Linked DNA regions of Homo sapiens: region 1 is linked to region 2. The links come from fine-mapping of genetic effects on gene expression. Tissue or cell type: blood mononuclear cells. Region 2 holds a variant in brackets; the other region holds the start of a gene. Each region is shown on its reference strand, or each on the opposite one. Region 1 holds the start of HGD (homogentisate 1,2-dioxygenase). Region 2 has its middle 18 kb from the start of FOXJ2.

The links. PIP is the estimated chance that this variant, and not a neighbour inherited with it, causes the effect.
Region 1: HGD starts here. The variant in region 2 is the best candidate, but not a certain one, in a credible set for the expression of HGD in blood mononuclear cells (TOPMed, PIP 0.50).

The regions. Positions count from the first base shown.
Region 1 is chr3:120,681,148-120,684,065 of GRCh38, forward strand. HGD (homogentisate 1,2-dioxygenase) reads right to left here and starts at 1,092. Exons shown (of 14, transcript NM_000187.4): 1 at 950-1,092. The coding sequence starts at 964.
Region 2 is chr12:8,012,777-8,015,694 of GRCh38, forward strand. It overlaps the pseudogene HSPD1P12. Among named protein-coding and RNA genes, the nearest start is that of FOXJ2, 18 kb to the right of the region's middle. The variant C/G (reference allele first, on the strand shown) is at 1,346.

The DNA.
Region 1 (2,918 bases), not on the chromosome of region 2:
TTCAAACTCAGCATCAGTTAGAGGGCATTAGGGCACTTCTCAAACCCTGCATTCAGGGAAGATGTCTGTTGTGGGGTGGTCTGGCCTACTTGGCCTGAGCCAAGGTTCTGGGCAGTTCTGTTCAGTTACACATGCATGCGTTGAGCATTGATTCAAGCCTGGCCTGGGCACTAGGCATGGTTTTAGATATTAGGGACATATTCTGTTTTCCTTGCCTTAAGATACCAGTCTAGTAGGAGCCACTAAGGCCCCTTTTTGAGCCTGGACTTCGCATTCAAACATACCCTGCTTCTAATCAAGTCATCTATTGGCAGTGACCTTGGGCAAATCATAGTCTCTCCAAGCATTACTTTTCTAATTGAAACAAGAACCTCTCTCTATACCCCAGATTTATTTTGAGGATTATGAGTTAATTCATAGCTAAAATGCTTAGCACCTAACAGCACATAACCCACACATACTTTTCAATTGCGTATTACTAAAAAGAAGGAATGATTTCCTAGAGGAGGTGCTTCTTCTGGCCAAGGGCTGATTCAGAGCCTTAATTAACTAAATAGATCAAGCATATCTAACTGGTCACCGGAAGTGGTCCATGAGGCTGCAGCAATGGGAAGGTGTCAGAGCAGGGGTTGGGAAAAAGACATAGAGAGAAACGTGCATGTCCGTAGTGGAGGGGAGCTCTTAGGATGTCTACAGATTTCCAAGACAATAATTGAAATGAACAAAGGCAAGGGATGACCAATAAGAGCTTCATTTCTTTCCTTTATCACCTTTCCCTTGTTCTTCAGCTCCAGCTGTGCCCACAGACACCACAGGGAAGCCTCTGAACACAGGGGTTTGAACCAGGGCCTCTCTAAGTCTTTTCCAACTCTGATACCCTGAAGTTCTCAGAAACTTCCATAAATTTTGGCTGAAGAAGCCATAGCAAACTTGTCAGATGGTTTCTTACCTTTAACTCAGCCATTTTCTCTCTCCTCTATGTGTGGTGACTTCAGGAAACCCAGGCCCAGAGGATATAAAGCCACAATGCTTCTTTCTCCTTCAAACCACTCTTTGGATATTCCGGTTCCCACTGCTTCACTGCGCTTCACTGGTCAGTGCGTCACTCAAACTAGCTGAAAGAATTGTCTAACTCATACACAGGGACAAAGTCCAGCAAGCTTATTTAACCGGTTACACAATTGCCTTTGGTTTTTACAGTTTGTTCCTAAGTGTTTCCAGAGGCTTGGTTCCTCTTCACCTGAGGTAGAGATTGACCAATTATTTATTCCAGTTAAAAGTAGGCTTATTTCAAAAGGCAGAGAATTTGAAGCTATCGGGGAAAGGAACTGTGGCAGATAGTGCCTGCTGTGTGTGGTGGAGGATTCTCTGCTCAGTCCTGACTCAGGCTAGGAAGGAACAGGGCAGTGCTGAGTCTCCTGGAGAGCAGTGAGAAAACCCCCAGGCATTTACCAGCTGCAGATGTGTACACTGGGGTAAGATGTTTACACACAGCCACCTGAAGACAGGGACCAGGACCAGAACCAGTTTTCTGCAGGTGCCTCCCAGGAATGAGCTCAGGTTCTTGGGTGAACCATTCAGAGCCTGAGATATTTCACTTAGAGCAAACTGATATGTTTCCTACTGCTCCTTTTAATTTCTTAAAGTACGTTTAGTTTTCTTATAAATTCTTTAAGAGTTTTGTTTCCTAATGCCTCTATACTTCTAAAACAGACCAAGGGATTATTCTCCAGCCACCTCCTCTATGACTCCCTTGTTCTTCATCTTGGCCGCTCTCCTTGGTCATTGGCAGGTAGCAGCTTCATGACTAGTGGTGTTCAGAAAGGAGAAAACATATATTGAGTTTCTGCTTTTGTCAGATTTTTCCATATCTAACTTCACAAAAACAATCTTGTAAATTAGGCATTATCACAACTCAAATGCCAACAGATGAGGGAGGAAGTGTAAGTGAATAAAGTAGGCTAGCTGATTTTTCAAGATAAGATGAAGCTCCAATTTTTAACCATTGGTAATTAGAGTGAGAGAGACAGAGAAACCACCCTGTGGTAGATGGCAAAAAATGCTCCAATTCCTCCTATCCTTGTATGTGTGCCCCTTTGAATGTGACTTTGCTGTTCCTCCCATCAAGAGGTAGGGTCTTTTTCTTTGGCTAGTAGCAAACATGACACAGAGTTTGAAACATGCCTGTGCCTTAGGACAGGGCCCATTCTTGCAGCCTGAGACCACAGTGCAGAGAAGCTGGGCTGGCCTCCAGAGGTCCAGGCAACAGCCCTGCAAGCCCCACAGGAACTGCCAGACATGTGAATGAGGCAGTCTGGCTGCCAGGTGACTGCAGAACATGTGTGATCCCAGGCAAGACCAGCAGAAGAACCACCAGTTAAATCTGGCCCGAACTGCTGAGCCACAGAATTGGGAACAAATAGAATGGTGTATTTCACACTACTAAATTTTGGGGTGGTTTGTTAAGCAGTGATAAATAACTGATATAATCATGCAGGTTGAAAAACATGTGCATATTTGAAGTGGCCACAGGCTGCTAGTTTGAGACCCTCTGCTTTAGATAAATGGGCTTAAACAACCTCCAAGGGTCCCCAGGCTCCAGCATACTGCAGTAGCAGCAGAATTATTGCCTGTGTATGAGGTGCTAGCACAGACTGGGCCAGACCAAAGGGGACATGTTGATAGGAAACATGCTGGTAGCAAACCATGTGGACTGATGCCTACGGACCGGGCAGCTGATAGGAAACCTCAGCATATGTCAGCATAGACAGATGGCATTGTGGCATTATATAAACTATTCTGGAATTCATATGCAAACCTAGGAGGAAGGTAGGTGGAGGCCCTAGCTTTATTGAGGCTAAGTTTTCACTATTCCTATAACATGCAGACTCTGAAACTGAATTCGAAGAAAATATCTC
Region 2 (2,918 bases):
CTTCCCTAAGAGCTGGGATTACAGTCATGAGCCACCGCGCCTCATATCTTGCTTTTACAGTGCTTCCTCTAAAGTCCTTCCAAAACAGTCTTAACAATTGTCATGTAAACCTATCATCTTTAAAATGTGTTGACTCCTTAGGAAGAGGAACTGCTACCCTTCACTAAGTATGCTCTGCTTCTCTAAGTATGTCTATTAAAATGTTCAGGAAAAAATCTGAGAGTCTGAGATGCAAGGCATTTAAGATGCCAGTGAGTTCCCAGAAAGCAAGCTTAGTGAGTATTCCCAGAGGTGATCACATGTCGCAAATCCTTCACTTTAGGCATTATGTAATTTAACCACTAGATGCTGTCTATCCTACCTTCCAACCCATTCCAAAGGCTCATATGTTGCTTAATACCTTTTGTGAGTCTTTTCAGAGTATGCAAGTATAGGACGGGCGTGGTGGCTCACACCTGTAATTCCAGCACTTTTGGAGGTCAAGGCAGGCAGATCACCTGAGGTTAGGAGTTCGAGACCAGCCAGGCCAACATGGTGAAATCCTGCCTCTACTAAAGACACAAAAATTACCTGGGCATGGTGGTGCATGACTGTAATCCAAGCTACTTGGGAGGCCAGGGCAGGAGAATCGCTTGAACCCAGGAGGTGCAAGTTGCAGTGAGCTGAGATTGCGCCATTGCACTCCAGCCTGGGCAACAAGAAACTCAGTCTCAAAATAAATAAAATAAAATAAAATAAAATAAAGTAAAATATAAAAGAATAGAAAAAATAATTTAAAAAAGAGTATGCAAGTACAATGACAGTTACACTCTATAGTCTGCTCTATAAGAATAGTTATTATGGCCAGGTGCGGTGGCTGACGCCTATAATCTCAGCACTTTGGGAGGCCAAGGAGGGTGGATCACCTGAGGTCAGGAGTTCCAGACCAGCCTGGCCAACATGGCGAAACCCCGTCTCTACTAAACATACAAAAATTGGCCGGGCGCAGTAGCTCACGCCTGTAATCTCAGCACTTTGGGAGGCCGAGGTGGGAGGATCACGAGGTCAGGAGATTGAGACCATCCTGGCTAACATGGTGAAGCCCCATCTCTACTAAAAATACACACACACACACACACACAAAAATTAGCCAACGTGGTGGCATGCACCTGTAGTCCCAGCCACTTGGGAGGCTGAGGCAGGAGAATCGCCTGAACTTGGGAGGCAGAGGTTGCAGTGAGCCAAGATCACGCCACTGCATTCCAGCCTGGGCGACAGGAGCAAGACTCTGTCTCAAAAAAAAAAAAAAAAAAAAGAATAGCTATTATTGTGTATATTCATATATTACGCTATGTTACTCTTCACA[C/G]CTATATAGCCATGGTTCTTTTCAAGGAAATTCGCTCAAAACAAGTTGTGTATAATTTTTACTGAGGCCTGTTTGCAATTACAATGCTGATCATAAATATTTTATCATTCTTATTGTTCTTGATAATATTAAAGCACAAAAGGCCACAAATGGCAAATAGTAATTACTTATGAATAAAAATAATTTGGGAATATACCAAGTCTAGTGGCTGCAATAGTCTCTCCCACCACCACTTACGTATATTACACATTATCAAGACAAGAAAAGTTTAGGAAGATGATAGGTACTGTGATTATCAACATAACCCTGACAAACCAATTTGATATCTGACATCAGTTTTAATACTCACATTCTGTCTGTTGTCCATCTCTCTGCTATCCTAGGAATTGACTCCCTCTCCAATTTCTCTTCAAGGTACTGTGTCCTGTAAGTTGTAATTGGCTAGTTATTCATTCACTGCATCTACTTAAGCTCCTTGAGGGAAAAGGCTGTGATTTAGACCTCTGGCCAATGGGCACTCTAACAAATCCTTGTGGAATAAAGTGAAACTTCATATAATTCTAATGATGTTTTAGAATGACTCAATTCTGGGATCTCCAACAAAGCTCATTCCACTCACTCATTCAGTAGCTTGTGAGAAGCATTTTATCAAATAAGGGTTCTGGGGAGAGACAGCTGAAGGTAAGGTAAAAACGTCTCTCCTGTATTTTGAGTCGTTTCTGTCACCAACTAGCAGTTTCCCGATCTGCGAAATGAGCAGGGATTGGATTAGGTGATCTTGCTGTCATAAAATTCTGTGATTTAATGTGGTTTACCTTGCCATATAAAATGTAAAACACCCTCACTTGCGGACGACGACCTGCCTCGTCGCGCACACGCCCTGCAGCCGCCCCGCAGAAATGCTTCTTCCGTTACCCACAGTCTTTCCCCAGATGAGACTGCTGTCCAGGGTACTGGCCCCTCATCTCACTCGGGCTTATGCCAAAGATGTAAAATTTGGCGCAGATGCCCGAGCCTTAATGCTTCAAGGTGTAGACCTTTTAGCCGATGCTGTAGCTGTTACGATGGGGCCAAAGGGAAGAACAGTGATTATTGAGCAGAGCTGGGGAAGTCCCCAAGTAACAAAAGATGGTGTGACTGTTGCAAAGTCAACTGACTTAAAGGATAGATACAAATTAGAGCTAAACTTGTTCAAGATATTGCTAATAACACAAATGAAGAGGCTGGAAATGGCACCACCTCTGCTACCGTACTGGCACGCTCTATTGCCAAGGAGGGCTTCAAGAAGATTAGCAAAGGTGCTAATCCAGTGGAAATCAGGAAAGGTGTGATGTTGGCTGTTGATGCTGTAATTGCTGAACTTAGAAAGCAGTCTAAATTTGTGACCACCCCTGAAGAAATTGCACAGGTTGCTACAACTTCTGCAAACGGAGACAAAGAAATTGGCAATATCATCTCCAATGCAATGAAAAAGGTTGGAAGAAAGGGTGTCATCACAGTAAAGGATGGAAAAACACTGAATGATGAATTAGAAATTATTGAAAGTGGCTGGGCGAGGTGCCTCATGCCTGTA